Linked DNA regions of Homo sapiens: region 1 is linked to region 2. Evidence: fine-mapped expression QTL. A gene starts in region 2. The other region holds a variant in brackets. All regions are shown on one strand. Distances are from middle to middle.

Region 1 (8,347 bases), 47 kb after region 2:
TAAAGGTGAGAACAGTTTTAGTGGAATGATGGAAATAAAAGCCAGCTTGCAGTGGGTTGTGATGGAATGGGAAGAAATTGGTGATAATGAGTGTAGACCATTCTTTGTAGAGCTTTAGATGCAATGTGAGAAGAGTGATTAGACAAAAGCTATAGAGAAAGTGGGATCTTAGAAACATTTTTATTGTTAGTTTTTTAAAGACTCGGGCATATTTACAGGATGTTGGAAAGAAACCAATAGGGAATAGATTGAAGATGTGGAAGGATGACAGATGAAGCAGAATTTCACAGGAGATGGGAGGGGAAGAAGTCATCAGCTCAGGTGGAGATTCTGGTCTTGAACAGGAGGAGTAACCATTATCTCCTAAAACTGGAGGTAGGTCCTAAAAATGAACATGTAAAATATATAGTTATATGGGTAAGAAAACAGGAAATTCATTTAGTCAACAAAGATTTATTTAGCTCCTATAATGCATCAGTTGAGAGAGGTTACTATGAAATAACTTCAGATAATCTTTGAGAGCAAGAAGAATAATGATTGAAAAGAAGTTTTAAAGAAAGTTGTGATGATTTAGTGTTGATATTGAGAGGAACAGAAAAGAACAGAGCACAGGAAAGTGAATGTTTGAGAGATGATGCTGTGGGCTTAGCTGAGACTGGAAACCAAGGATTCATGGTGACACGAATCTGCATTTCTGCTGATTATCTTCAGTAGCTCAGTCATTCATGTGTAAGATGGAGAAGGTAGATTTTAGCCTCCATAAAAAGACTTCTTTGGGAATGTCCATAGCAGTTTTATCTGCAATATCCTGAAAAAGTCTGCAATTCAAATGTCCATCAACAAAACAGTGGAAAACCTAATTGTTTTTATTCGCAATAATCAAAAGGTGGTAACTCAAATGTCCATTAACAGATTAATTAATGAATAAACAAAATGTGATATATACATACATAGAACATTATTCATCTTGAAAACAGAATGAAATGCTAGTATATGCTACAACAACAATGAGCCTTGAAAACATTATGCTAGGTGGAATAAGTCAGATACAGAAGGATAAACATTGTGTTATTGTGCTTATATAAGGTACCTAGAATAGACAAATTTACAGACACAGAAAGTGGAATATAGGTTACTGGGGGCTCAGGTATAGCAGAGAGGGGAGAATTGGGAGTAGCTGTTCAATGGATATAGAGTTTCTGTTTGGGATGATGGGAAAGTTCTGGAAATACATATAGTGCTGGTGGTTGCATAATACTGTAATTGTAATTAATGCTGCTGAATGGCACACTTAACAATGGCTAAAATGGCAGATTTTATGTTATCTATATTTTACTATAACAAAAAATACATAGAGCCTGGGCAACATGGTAAAACCCCATCTCTACAAAAAAATACGAAAAATTAGCTGTGCACAGTGGTATGTACTTGTAGTCCCAGTTACATAGGAGGCTAAGGTGGGAGGATCACTTGAGCCTGGGAAGTTGAGGCTGCAGTGAGCTTTGGGCAACAGAGTAAGACCCTGCCTCAAATATATATATATATATATATAGTTATTAGTAACCTCAATGCTTTCATCTTTCCTCCTAGTCTTCCTTCTTTCTAAAATTTTTAGGTATAATTTATATACAATAAAATGCACAAATCTTAGGTATTTGATTTAAAGTGTTTAACAAATATACGCACCCATATAACTACTATCCAAAACAAGATATGGGGTATTCCCATTATCCTAGAAAGTTTACCCTAGAAATGTCCCCATGTACATTTCTAGTCAATTCCCAGACTTCTAACATCATAGACTTATTTCACCTGTTCTGGAAAATTATAAAAGTTGATTGATACAACAAATGATTTTTTGAGTGTGACATCTTTCACTCAACATACATTTTGGGGATTCACCCATGTTGTATATATCAGTATTCCATTCCTTTTTAATGATGACCTCATGTCACATGGCCTCAGCCATTTCAGCAAAGTCAAAAATAGAAATGGGATTAACTAGGAACGAAATTTGTGGACAAGTCTTTTGTCTTATGGAATGAATACCCATGATATACATGGGAAACCCACTAGGTTCTTGAAGATTTTATACTAATAGAAATGTTGCCAGAGTGTATTAAGAAGGACAAAGACAGTATGAAATGAAAAAAGGCTGTCAGATCTCCAAAATTCCATGGGCAGGAAACAGCTGAATATATGTGCCAACTTTCATGAAAAAGGGAGGGTGATTCAGAGGGTGGTGCCAGGAACTGGGGAGGATGAAACCAGGAGCACCGAAGGTGGAGCTGTGATTCTAAAAGACAGAGCCAGAAGCCAGGAGGGCAGAAACTGGAAAGCAGGTGGCAGAGCTGGGAGCTGCTGCTGATTATTCCCAGGCCTTGAAACCAGATGAAGTTTACTCAGTCCTATTTCAAAATTGCTTGGAATTGGTAATTCCTGTTTACCTTTCATTTTCTCCCTTTTGAACCAGAATATCTATAACTTATCCTATGCCTGTCTCACCATTGTATTTTGAGAGCAGATAACTTGTTTCTTTAATTTCATAGATCCACAAATGGAGAAAAGTTGTGCTTCTGGATGGGTTATATCTGGAGCCTCACCTATACCTAATTTAGATGATGAGATATGGGACTTTTGAGATTTAGATGAGATGTTGAACTTTGAGTTGATGCTGTAAAGGTTAACCTTTCGGGAAATTGAGATAAGTGAATGTATTTTGCATGTGGGATAGATGTGAATCTTTAGGGATGAACTGTGATAGGGCGAATAATGGTCCCCAAAGATGTTCATATTCTACCAGAACATGTGAATATGTTATATTACATGGCAAAGGGAAATTAAGTTTGGAGATGAAATTAAGGGTTCTAATCAGCTGATCTTAAAGTAGGGAGATTATTCTGGATTAGTTGAGTGGTCCCAATCAAATCACATGAGCTCTTAAAAATGGAAGGGGGATGCAGAAGCATTTGTCAGAGAGATACCACCTGAGGACTTGACTTGCTTTTGTTGGTTTTGAAGATGGAGGAAGGGAGCCATGAGTCAAGGAATGAGGCAGCTTGAAAACCTGGGAATGGCCTTCAGCATACAGCCAACAAGAAAACAAGGGCCTCAGTTCTACAGCCGGAAAGAACTGAATTCTGCCAACAGCCTGCATGAGTAAGAAAACAGATTCTCCCTAGAGCCTCCAGATAGCAATGCAGTCCTGCTGATGCCTTAATTTTAGTAGAGTGAGACCTTTGCAGACTTCTGACCTATATAACTATAATTAATAAATCTGAGTTGTTGTACGCCACTGTTTGTGTTGCAATTTGTTAATGGCAGTAACAGCAAACTAAAATAAAACCAGTCAAAGATTTCAACTCTTGTGGGATCACATTCCCCCAGGAGGAGACAGTCAATATATGTAATAAATAAATTATATAGTATGTGAGAAGGTAATAAGTGATATGAAAAAGAACAAACAGTAAAAGGGAGTGAGAGTGTGATTTTAAGTGGGATAGCTAAGGTAGGCCTTATTGAGAAAGGGACACTGGAACAAAGTGGGGGTTTGTGATGTAAATTTAGCAGTTCAAGTCTAATTTAACAGTATTTTATTAAATAAAACAATTGGTTACTCAATTTGTTTGAAGCCCTAGTGTTAGGATTTAAATTAAGATACATATTTTTTCTAGATATTATCTAACATAGAAAAATGGTTGTTTATTTTGGTGGCTAAGCATTGTATTTAAAAGATTGTCTTTTTAATTCTTTTCATTATTAGTCTTTTTCTTATAGTTTCCATATGTTAAAATATGCATATATTTTTTTTCCCAGATATATTATTTTGGTACCTTCTCAAAGTTTTACTAAAAGTGTAATGGAGTACTTTCACTGTTATCTTTCCATTCCTAACAAGATCTTTCTAGTTTCATGAGACTCAAAGTGATAGAGTAGAAAAAGCAAGACACTTTCAGAGGCAAGTTCTGTCCCATATATGCTACAAACTCTAGCAAGCCAGTGACCTACTCTTTTTTTTTTTTTTTTTTTTTTGAGACGGAGTCTTGTTCTTGTTGCCCAGGCTGGAGTGCAATGGCAC[G/C]ATCTTGGCTCACCACAACCTCTGCCTCCTAGGTTCGAGCAATTCTCCTGCTTCAGCCTCCCAAGTAGCTGGGATTACAGGCATGCGCCACCATGCCTGGCTAATTTTTTGTATTTTTAGTAGAGACGGGGTTTCACCATATTGGCCAGGCTGGTCTTGAACTCCTGACCTTGTGATCTGCCCACCTCGGCCTCCCAAAGTGCTGGGATTACAGGCGTGAGCCCCCGCACCCAGCCCTGACCTACTCTTAACTTCAGTTTCCATCTGAAAGTTTAGAAAACTTATACTTGTCTTCAAGGATGTTACAAAAATTAGGTAAGAAAATCTTGTAAATTGGCTGGGCATGGTGGCTCACGCCTGTAATCCCAGCACTTTGGGAGGCCGGGGTGGGCGAATCACGAGGTCAGGAGATCGAGACCATCCTGGCCAACATGGTGAAACCCCATCTCTACTAAAAATACAAAAATTAGCTGGGCATGGTGGCGTGTGCCTGTAATCCCAGCTACTCAGGAGGCTGAGGCAGGAGAATCGCTTGAACCAGGGGAGTTGCAGGTTGCAGTGAGCCAAGATCACACCACTGCACTCCAGCCTGGTGACAGAGCAAGACTCTGTCTCAAAAAAAAAAAAAAAAAAAATCTTGTAAATTATTTTTAAAATCCTTTCAATTATTTTCACAGATTAGTCTCTTTTCCTTGACCTAAATTTCTAAAATAAAATAAAATATGCAATATTTTTGAAATTATGTAACAATTGATTGTTTCAATATAGGGCAAATTAGAAGTTAATAAAGAAAAAAGTTCTATTTGAGTAAAGCACACATTTACTGAGGCCTACATTTTCGTTCCTAAGGTTTTGCTTTGAGCAACTTAGGGCATACTGTGTGAGGCAGCATGGAGGCAGGAAAGCTCAGCTTCTGTGGGAGAAAGAACAGGGGCCTCCTATTAGTGGCCAGTGGATCAACACTCCCATGTTATGCTTAGAACTTTATTACTATGAAAAGCTCTTTGATTTGTCTTTTCAACTCTCTTATAAAATGAAGATAATAAATCACTTCAAAAATCCAAATGTTTTTTTTTCCTGTTCCCAAAGCTTTTGTAGAAAAGATAAAAAAGGGAGAAAAAGGGAGGTGGGGTGAAGGACAGAGACATGTTTTAGACTCATGCCCTGAGGTTATGCAGAAACAACTGTCACAAAGGTTAAAACAAAAAGTCTTTATCTTTTTCTCAGTGGATAGCAGGAGAAAAATGACATAGGAAATAGCTACTTCAACTGAGGGAGTCAAATCTTTGCCTTACTTGTTTGACTCAATTTACTTTAATTGGCAGGTAGGTTCTTCGGGAAAGAGAAACTATTTGGAACAAAAAGAACCGAACAGCCTATTTGAAAGCCGTGTCTTAACAGCAGATCTGAAATTGTACACATTTATTTTCCCATATTGTTATTTATTAAAGAAGGGGATTAAATTACCTTGCCTCCACATATCTGATGAAAAGGGATAGCTACATTTTATTTCATACCAAATTGGATACATTGCTTAACCTCTTATAGCTTCCATTTTTTTAACCTGTAAAAAACAATCCTACACTGGTATGTTAAAAGATCATTCTAAATTACCATATAGTAGGCTTTTAATAAATATTTATATCAGTGTGGTGGTCATCACTGTTAATACATGAAATTATTATTGCTAGTCTAATCTTGCAAGCTAACAGTAGGGCTCTAGTTTAGGCAGCTCATTGGCCAATAATTTGCTAATAAATCAAGCAATGAAATAAATGTAAAAAGTTTTACATATCCTAAAAAATGTGATAGATTTGGTACTGGTGGGACATAGAGTATCAGACCAAACAGGCTGTCTGAACAGATTTTCTCTGTAAAAATCATATATAGATGACATAAATTTCAACTCTAGAACCTATTCAGCTTCCTCAGTGCTGCCTACACCTGTTACATCTCACAATCAGCAGGAATATGTCATCCATAGTGAAAGCCTGGAACCAAACTAGGTTGCCAGAGCCAAGGTAATAGGGAAGATAGAATGACTCCAGAAACTGCCTGAGGCAAGAAAATGATATGATATTGAATTGAAAGATAGAGCAAATGGTATTAACATTTTCTTTACAGAGATGATAAGAAGTCAGAGATGAACACTGAATTGAATAGGCATTTCCTTTGTTTTCCTAGTCAGTCTCATTAACTTCTCAGAGCAAATTATTTTAAATTAACTGGGGTCACCATTCCTTTCATTCAGTTATGATTTACTCAGCACTTACGATGTACTAGACAGCATGTAAGGCACTGGATGTATAGAAATATGAAATTGAATCCGTGCCCTCTAGAAGCTCATAATTTTAGGAGGCAGACGTTTATTGCACGATGTGATGGGTACTATGAGAGAGTAAGCAGAGAAGTACAGAAGAGGCATCTCACCCAGTCTGAAGGATTTGGGAAGAGTTTGTTGGAAGAGATGACATCTGAGCCAAGACAAAAAATGAAAAGACAATGATCAGAGTCAAGCTTGGGGAAATTTTACGTGTTATTTAGAGATATGTGATAACTGGTTAATTCAGGGAATTTTAGCAAATAAATGCTGGACCACAGAGGAATATGGGGGATTGTGAGAGGCAAGCTGGACAAGTAGCATGGGACCAGATCATGAGGACCTTTATATGCCATGTTAAGACAGTAAGAAGTTGGCGAAAAATTCTGCTCATGATGCCTTAGTTAAAAATCATACAAATAACTTCTCACCTTTTATTTACATGGAAAACAAGAAAGTCTTTGAGAACAGCACATACAGAGAAGGGGGTGTTTACTAGGGATTATGATGACTATGATACTGAGCCCTTCAATTCCAGTCTTCAAGAAGCAATTCCCACTTCCATCCAACCCCTAGGAGTCAGGGCTTCTGACAGCACAACTATGTTTTTGCAGAGTGTTTGTATTCTTTGGTTCTCACCTTTAAGTACTTGTCTTGATGGAAAGAAAGATTAAAGGTATTTTACTAGAAAAGTCTTAATGCAATTGTAGTGGGTTGAATAGCATCCCTCGGAAATTCATGTCCTTATAGAACCTCAGAATGTGACCTCATTTGGAGATAGCGTCTTTGCAGATGCAGTTAGTTAATATAAGGTCATACTTATACTAACTTGGATAAGGGTGAGCCCCAAATTCAATGGCTATTGTCCCTATAAGAAAGGCATGTGAAGACAAAGGCAGAGGTTGGAGTTATGCTTCCACAAGCCGTGGAATGCCAAAGATGGCAGGCAACCACTGGAAGCTGGGGGAGAAGCAAGGGACAGTTTCTCCCTCAGAGCCTATGAAGGGAACCAGCCCTGCTAATACCTTCATTTCGACTTCTGGCGCCCTGAACTGTGAGAAAATACATTTCTGTTACTTTAAGCCACCCAGATTATGGTAATTTGTTAGGAAACTAATGCAACAACAACAACAAAAAAGTATCTTAGTGATAATGAAAATTTTTCTAAATAGGGCTTTGTCCACTCCAAAAATCTCAAACTGGTCTTAATGGATAGATGAGTAATTCTTAGGAATTTTCATAGTAATTACACGATCTATAATGAAAAGAAGTCCATATAAATTTCAAGATCTTAGAAATCTGGTTTCTATACTCCTGCCTACTTACTCAAGTACTTATTTATTCCCAGTGGTGATACATAATCATTTCTACAATTAATTTTCTCTTTCTATTTAAGGTTATTTTCCTTGTCTTATCTTGAAGAACTTGATGTTTCCTATAATGAACTTACTTTTATTCCAAATGAAATTCAGAAACTCAGGTATTTTGGAAGTACACAGAAAGTTATATGCCCCTTAATTATATATTTAATAATGATTGTGATAGAGAAAATCAATCCTTTCATTTATTTAATAGCCATAAAATGTAATCTGTGAAGTACAAAGTTTACCAAACATGTAATTTGAATGATTGGTGTACAGTATTTTTAAGACATAACATTTCCAGAAATTATTTAAAGAAAGTGCAGATGACTACTTAACAGAACGATAAGCTACTTATGTCCATTTGTCTGTGTGTGTACCTGTGGCTCTTATTATGTTTCATTTATTTTTTGTGAGGAAATACATTTACGCAAAATGCTAATAATACAAAATATAATTTTAATGCAAAGCTTCAATTCTTTCTAACATTAATAAAAGTCTGAAGTTTATCTATGTCCTTCTAGGTCAGTACTATACTGTTTTGATTGTGACTTCAGAATAATTTTTAATAACTAGTAGGGAGATTAT
Region 2 (8,347 bases):
ATATGTCAAACTCATACAAGCATAGTTGCTTTCTTGGAATTGCAGTGGGGAGAAGAATAAAGCCCCACAAACTGTCTTCCCCATGGCTTCTGAATAGAGCTAGACACTATATTCTTTTCCTTGGTTAGGGATTACCTCACCTGGAAAACCTGGCAAAGGAAATGAAGAAATTTTCTGCTACCTGGGGCAGGGTGGAGAGAGAAATATCCTGAAACTTTAATTCTACCCTGATAAAATTTGGCATCGTATTATAAATTTGGCAACATATTATAAAGTGGAGATTGCAATTGTCAGAAATGTAGCAGAACTGTCAACAGCATACTAAACTATGTGACACTGAAATGTGAGTTACACTTCTAGTTGTCTAGTTCTGGTATAAGAAATACAAATTCTTTACCAACACTCAACCCACAGAATACAATGGACTCTTACATGTCCCGCCCTTACTCCCATACACAACTTTTAGCCTCATGTACTTACGAATAAAACATATACTCAATAGGGCAGTAGGCATAAGCAGAATGCTAGGTTTGAAAAGGAAATCATATCTACTGTTTAAGGTCATATGTTGACATTAGAATGAAGAATAAGTCATTATAAAGCATTTTTTCTCACCTGCGGTTCTAATTGCTACAGGTGTTTGCTGAGGGTTGAATAGAGAGCATGCAGTTCAGACACTTTATTGATATAGTACATGTTCCTCCTAAGTTTAGGACTAAATCCCAGCCAGTACAGGGACTCAGTAGACTCATCTACCAAAGTCCGGTGTGCACATTAGAAAAAAACCTAAGAAAGATCATGTGCATTTAACACCTTTCCCTCTAGCCATTCAAAGGAGCTTCACATTGCAGCCCTTTTTCACCTTTGTTAGGCACACCAAGTGGCCTGGAAGATGCTGAGAACAAAGAGGCTTTCTTCCTTGGGTTACCGGTTGAAATACATCATCGATTCAGCCCGGCTCAATCAATGGTGACAGCAGCTCGCAGACCCAACTCACGTGGGGGAGAGTCAAGGCCTCCTTACAACACTGTACCAGGACTCCTTCAGGCACGAGCTCTCCCACAGCTCCTGTGCCGCCCAGAGGAGTATAAAGACCTGTGACAGAATGTGGGACACTGCCTAGAGCATAGCATTTGTGCCACAGTCTGAGAACTGCAAACTAGAGTTGCCAACATTTGGAGACATTAGGAAAGTTAAATGTGAAATTTTGTGGATAAATTTTGTGGATAAATGCCCAGGATGTATAGCCCTCCAACATTTCAATTAACGTCAACTATCATCACATAAAGCAGGGGTGTGGAGACCGGAAAACTGGGCTGTTTTATTTTAATTTTCTAACAACATCTACTGCGCACTGACTCTGTGGCTGGCACAGAACTAAGCCTCTGACACAGATTATCTCTTTAACTCCTCACAAGACCCTTTGGTAAGTACCATTTTAACCCAGTTTTACAAATGAGGAAACCCTGGGGCTTAGGTTAAGTAGCTGGTCCAAGGGCACAGGGCTGACAAGTGGCAGCCAAATGTGAACCCAGCTGGGTAGAGCTGTGCTATGCTTCCTGTGCTTGAAATTTAATGCAGATGCCAGCATCCTCAATTAATATAACAATTGTGAAGCTAAAATAAAATCAACATTTAAAACAGTGCCTTCCCCATACTAATGTACATTGCTCATGCTAAGCGCTTAATATTAAGGAAACAAATATTATTTAACTTTTTTTGGTGAAGGACACAATCATACAATATATACAAATATCTAATATTAGCTGGTTGCAGACAGTCTAAAATGATCACTGCAGCTAAAAAAAAAACCTCAAAATGTTTCTGAGAATCAAAGGAGTGTGAATAAACAACACTATTCTACCAAAGCAATAAAATAAAAAATTGTTTTAAAAAAAACCCTCAAGTAGTTATAATGCAGATAAGTGTAGTCTTTGGAAATGATTTAAAATTTCATTTCAATGTCTAAATTATAAAGCCTCAAATTAATCATTATAAGTTGTTTTAATAAAGTTTAAAGTTTAGCACCTAGTGAAGTAACTTATGCATAGTAGGTTTCCAATAAATGATTCTGGAATGAATGACTAAATTCATGAAGGCACTTTTGAAAACAGACAGACATTGTCCTTTCCTTGTGTTTGATTTTTTTTTTAATTCCATGATAAAGGTTGCATGACATTTCCTTATTAGTAATTTTTTTAAAGGAATCCCAGGATCTCCAGTTCAAACAAAGGAAATAACTATCACCTTGAAAGACAAAAAGAAATAATTGGCTGAAAATAATTAAAAACAAATGAAGTGTTTGTCTTTACAGTGAGATATGGGGATAAAAAGAGTAGCAGCTTCTTCAAAATATCTTTATTAACATTTGAGAAAATATAAAACTATTCTCTAGGCAACAGCATGAAAACACATGAAATAAGTGGGTACATTTAAGCCACTGTGACTGAAGAAGACATTTCCCCGTACATATAATTAATATAAACAGGTAAATTCAGACCAATAAAACACTTCTTTCTCAAAAGCATTTTAGTGCCCTGTGTTACTCTGGAGACTCAGTAGTTGAACAAATATGTGCTCAAAAATAACTATTCATTCTTTAACAGTACTTAAAAAAATTAATATGAACATAAAAACACAAATTACTCCATTATTTCCATAAGGTAAAATATTAGGTTAAAACTACAATGGCCAAACTGTTTAGCAAACCTCTGTCCTATTTTAAAGGGAAATAAATAAATAAGAGATAGGTCTATGGAAAATAATGAAGTTGTCTAGCAACACTTTTCACATCACTTCCACCATTTCAACAGAACCAACAGCAAATCTAAGGTTCCCCAAGCGTTTCCCACTTATTAGGGAAATCGATAGCATTACCTGCGGGGTGCCTGCGGTTGCTTCTGCATAAGGCTTTTATCTCATTTTAGCAACATTTAAAAAATGCAGGATGTCTATAACCTTGGCACTCATCATTACGCTGGCATCTTTAGTACAATTTGCTAATAGAGTGAAAGCACTGTGGTTCAGTTTGGGAAGCTTCTTCATAAGGTTCTGCCAAACTGCAAAGGGGACGGAACAAATAAATAGGCTGACCGTACATACATCAGAAAAAGCAGACCCTTAAAATCCAAAAGGGAGTTATTCATTATTTCAAAAACACGTTATTTTACAAAAGAAGAAAGAAAATTGAGGGGATAATATTTTCAAAAATATAAGAACTATAAAATAATCTAAATTGAATTTTGTTTGTCCTGTCTAAACTCATCCTATACTGATATATCATTTCCATAGACAAAGCGAGTCAGATGTGTTAGAATAACATATATACATATAAAATATACCAAGCCATGGATTTAATTTTCATAATAACTATCTCATTTGCCTAAATGTTTGGTACTAAGTGGTAGAAATAGAAGACAAAATGTTCACACCTGAGATTACATATTAAACCGCCCTAGGTTTTAGTCTCATACTTGCTAGAAGAAATCTGCAAGGAATGATACCTGGATGCCTGCGGATTCCAAGTGTGACAAAGCATTTTTTGAAAAAGCATTCAGAAGCCTTGCTTTCGACTACACAAAGCTAAGCATAAATTTTAAAGGCCAAACGTCAGTCAGTAAAACTGAATTCCTGTAGTTCTCATGGTTCCAACGATCTTGAAGAGCATAGGTACCTGACTCAATTTACACTGTCATTTTTTATGCTTAAAAATATAAACCTTTTTTCACATTTACAAAATATGCACGATATATATTACTTGAGACTAATCTTAGCCACAGAGCTGCCTTTTATTTTCAGCTTTGTATTTCTGAGAAACTAATGAATCTATGGTGTAGATAACAGCAAAAGTGGAAATAAATTCATAGTCTGGGGCAGCAGTATAATTGGGACACAGTAAACTTACAAGGAAAAGAAACAGTACACTACTACTGTAAAGGAAAACAAGTTGCATAATATTTTCCAGAGTCTGATTACTTTTTTGTTAAAACTTTTCTACTTTTTTCATTGATTGTTTTAAAACATGTTTGCTACTAAGGAGAAAAAGGAAGACATGGTTATGGTGTGAATCTTGAAAGATCCCCAAAGCTAGAAAGATTTATACAGAAGTCTCTCATTTTCCAACTTCTGTTATAAAGTTCCTGCGCTAGTACTTAGAAAAAACCAAACCTGGAAGGAAGCTCTACCTAGTTTACTTTCTGAGTTCGGATTTCCGCATCTATCAGATGAGCTCTTTCTAGTGCTCTTTCCCCCTCAAATCTCCAGAGAAACACGCACATTTTTGCAAACACACACGATGTATCTATGACTGCACACACAGGTTCATCAACACCATGACAGAGGCGACACGTCACAATATGATAACCAGAACAGAGGACGATGACAGTGAGAAATGGGTTTCTTTTATGGCCCGCTTGGATCCCTAATGCCCTTATTTCTACACAATCCAGCCTCAGCCAGGAACTTTAAAGGATCAGAAAGAGAAAACAGGTTGCATGAAAGGAAGAGAAAGAAAACCGAATGCCCGCTTTTCGAGAGCACTGCAAAATTAGCCCCGGGACCCGGCTGCACAAAAGTGCAGCCTTAAAGAATGCCAGCCCATATTCTAGACACCCAAGTAAAGCATCCTGTAATCGAGAGAAAATAATAAATAATAGTGGTCATTGCCATTAAGCATAAAAATAGTAATAACAATTGTCACCACGGCGTTCCGTACAGCAGCTGCGCGTGGAGCCGGCTTCTCCTCCGGCCCCCACGGCCCGCAGCTTCCCCTGCAGCCCCACAGTGCGTCGGAGGAAGGCGAGGGCTCCGCGCGCGCTGCACCGTGGGCTGGGCCTGCCCCTCCCGGCGCCCGCCTCGCCTCGCCTGTCCCGCGCCCGCCTCGCCTGTCCCGCCCCCGCGCCTGCGCGTCAAGTGGCTGGGCTGGCTTAGCGGACCCCGGTTGCTAGGGTGTGTCTCCTTGGCCTCCTAGAGGGTGGGGATCCGTGGTGCTTCTTCGGGAACAGCCTCCTGCAGGAAGACCCTCGCTGGACCTTTACCTCGCTGCCTAGATTCCGAGGAAAAGGAGATAGGAGACGAAAAGCCAGTTGGTTTGGAAAGCGGCCGATTATCCTAAAGGGTAGTGTGGGAGTCCAGCACTTCCATGCCCCTCTTTGGGTACTACGGAAGGGAGATTTCCAGCATCGTGTGGAACATATGACCAGGGAGTACACCTTGAGCGCTTGTGTGCAGTTATCTTTTGGCGGTAAACGGCCCATTTGTGCAGTTTCAGGGTGTTCCCTTCTAGGCTATCAATGGAATAATGCCGTGCCAGGCACTTTTGATGTTGCCCTGCAAACTAAAAGCACATTTTGGGGGTGCATCTTCTCGCATTATTTCTAAACAGTATGAGTTGGGATCCAGCAGCCCTGGGAAATCTCATTATAGTGAAACCCATCTTATTTTAGGATTGAATTGTTTTGGCCCAAGCATAGTGGTTGAAAAACAAGCCATTATAGAAAGAAAACAATTTGTTTGTGAATGGTTAGATATGGTGGGTCTTCAGAGGCTTATCTAATGAAGGCATCTTCTACACATTTCTGACCAAATTCTCTTTCTACATTTATAGCGATAACATTTTGGAGAGAGAGAAAAAAAATGTCATTTCGACTATTCTGAAAAATCAGTATTTACTAGTTGAAATAGCATTGGCAAATTGAACTTTGTACTAACATGGAAAATTGTAGAATGATCCTGGGTAGTAATAATACACATATTTTTAAAATTCTATGTTTACTTATAACCCTACATTTTAACTGGATTCTTTCTATTAATAGAAGTTTTAAAGAATTATTTTCTTACCCTCTTTTTTTTTCATAAAGGAATTCTGCCTGGATTCAGTAGAGTATTGGTACAGAATGATTTTCTTTAAGATGTAATCTAAATTCTTATTATTTTTCAACAATTCAAACATATTCAAAACCTTTTCAATTCTCATTTAAACCAAGGATTATGAAAAACAGCACTTATTATTCATTAAAATGCAAAAGCCCCCACTGCTTCTTCGAAGACCCTTACCTCCAAAATTCACTAAGCTGTCTTTACATGAGAAAAAAACCCATACAGGTATGTGTATTAATCAGATATGTGTATTAACATTTATGTATCTTTCATAGAAATTCCTTGACTTGCACAGCTCAGAATCACAATAAATACACTCACTAATAACTTACAAATGTTTGTTGTCAGGTGATAACATCCAATTCAATTCCACAGATGCATTTACTGATACTTATTGGTGGACTTAGTAGATTCAAGTTTATCTCATCGATAAAATTTACTTGTAACCCCAGAATTGGTACTCAAAGGGCTTTCTCAGTCATGCGTGGATATGTGCAGAGCACTGAAAATGAGTCACCCAACACACATGCCTCCAGCTGAGGTGGAACAAGGCTACCTCTACCTTCTTGTTTCAGCTCTCATATTGTAAACGGGTACTGTTTTCCCTGTCTGTTTAGCTCTATGTTTCTTGAATGTTTGTGCTTTTAGTTAGTGATTTCACTGTGGGCCCCAAGCATAGTGTTGAAGTACTGTCTAGTGTTCCTGAGCACAAGAAGGCTGTGATGGGCCTTACAGAGAACAAGATATGTGTTAGATAAGTTTCCTTCAGGTGTGAGTAGTGTTGTTGGCCCTAAGTTCAATGTTAACAAATCAACTGTTTATATTTATTAAAGTGTCTTTAAATAGAAACAAATATAAAACAAAATTAGTGTTGATCAGTTGATGAAAATGTTGAAACCAGAGGTTTGCAGGAACCTAGCCCCATATTTCTTCCAGGAGAAATGGTTCAGTAATGAGTAATTCATTGTTTGTAGAACAGAACTACTGCAAATAACAAGGACCGAATATATTTAGTGAGCAAAAACAGACCTTACCTGTTCCCTTCATTAGTTACCCACTGGGATACTGATTGTAATCAATCAATCATATAAGTAAATGCAAAATTACCCTGTGATAAGTGCTATGAAGTAAAGATGAGCCACTTTTATAACTATAACTTTATCTAATGCTTAATCCTCTATTTCTGTTGTATGGTTTCTATTCCCTCCTTATTATAAGCAATACAATTAGCATATTTTCTCATTTTCCCCTTCTCAGTTTCCTCTTCCATCTGATTTTAGTTGATTGCAGTTTTAGTGTCAACATTTATACTGTTCAAATATACCTAGTCTATAACTTGATTTATAATGTTAAATTATCATCTTTTGACCTATGGCTATTAACAGTAGGTAACTCAACTTACCTGTAATACTGCCACAATTTCCTCTCCTACTTTCTCTCCCAACTTTTGTTACATGATTTTTACATCATCATTTCTACATTTCTATAATGTTCTGCATTTACAATCTGTTCTGTAATAATACAGTATGCAGATTTACAGCTCAAGGTTACCAGTTATCTTGTAGTTTCTCCATTCATCTTTTGTTTAAAGTTTATCTTCTAGTACAGAATTTCACAACCTTGGCACTATTGACATTTTAGGTTGGATGGTTCCTTTTTTTTGGTGGGGAAAGCAGAGCTCTCTTGCTCCAAAGGCTCTTGACAGAGGGCTTTGCACATAGTAGGTGATCAAAATTTGTTTTTTTATTTCTTCTAAAAAAAAAAAAAGCAGGATACATGCACAGAACGTGCAGGTTTGTTACATAGGTATACATATGCCATGGTGATTTGCTGCACCTATTGACCCATCCTCTAAGTTTTCTCCCCTCACCCTCCACCCACTAACAGGCCCTGGTGTGTGTTGTTCCCCAATCTGTGTTCATGTGTTCTCAGTATTCAACTCCCACTTACAAGTGAGAACACACAGTGTTTGGTTTTCTTTTCCTGTGTTAGTTTGCTGAGGATGATGTCTTTCAGCTTCATCCATGTCCCTGCAAAGGACATAATCTCATTCCTTTTTATGGCTGCATAGTATTCCATGATGTGTATGTACCACATTTTCTTTATCCAGTCTATCACTGACAGGCATTTGGGTTGGTTCCATGTATTTGCTATTGTGAACAGTGCTGCAATAAACATACGTGTGCATGTGTCTTTATAGTAGAATGATTTATGTTCCTTTGGGAATATACCCAGTAATGGGATTGCTGGATCAAATGGTATTTCTGGTTCTAGATCCTTCAGGAATCCTTATACTGTCTTCCACAATGGTTGAACTAATTTACATTCCCACCAACAGTGTAAAAGTGTTCCTATTTCTCCACAGCCTTGCCAGCATCTATTGTTTCCTGACTTTTTAATAATTGCCATTCTGACTGGCGTGAGATGGTATGTCATTGTGGTTTTGATTTGCATTTCTCAGATGATTAGT

Alleles and levels. Alleles are on the strand shown, and positions count from the first base shown. SD is a standard deviation of normalised expression in the study named.
In carriers of allele C in region 1, the expression in testis of the gene that starts at base 4,911 in region 2 tends to be lower than with G alone (small effect, 0.13 SD a copy in GTEx).

What was found. PIP is the estimated chance that this variant, and not a neighbour inherited with it, causes the effect.
Region 1: its variant is fine-mapped to the expression of LRRC63 in testis (GTEx, PIP 0.97).

Annotation. Positions count from the first base shown.
Region 1 is chr13:46,254,115-46,262,461 of GRCh38, forward strand. It overlaps LRRC63 (leucine rich repeat containing 63), which reads left to right. Exons shown (of 10, transcript NM_001282460.2): 8 at 7,795-7,878. Among named protein-coding and RNA genes, the nearest start is that of LINC00563, 40 kb to the right of the region's middle. The variant G/C (reference allele first, on the strand shown) is at 4,079.
Region 2 is chr13:46,207,018-46,215,364 of GRCh38, forward strand. LRRC63 (leucine rich repeat containing 63) reads left to right here and starts at 4,911. Exons shown (of 10, transcript NM_001282460.2): 1 at 4,911-5,242; 2 at 5,985-6,102. The coding sequence starts at 6,018. It overlaps LOC107984578 (a long non-coding RNA gene), which reads right to left and starts at 4,835. Exons shown (of 4, transcript XR_001749863.3): 1 at 2,878-4,835. RefSeq lists a silencer at 4,667-4,996.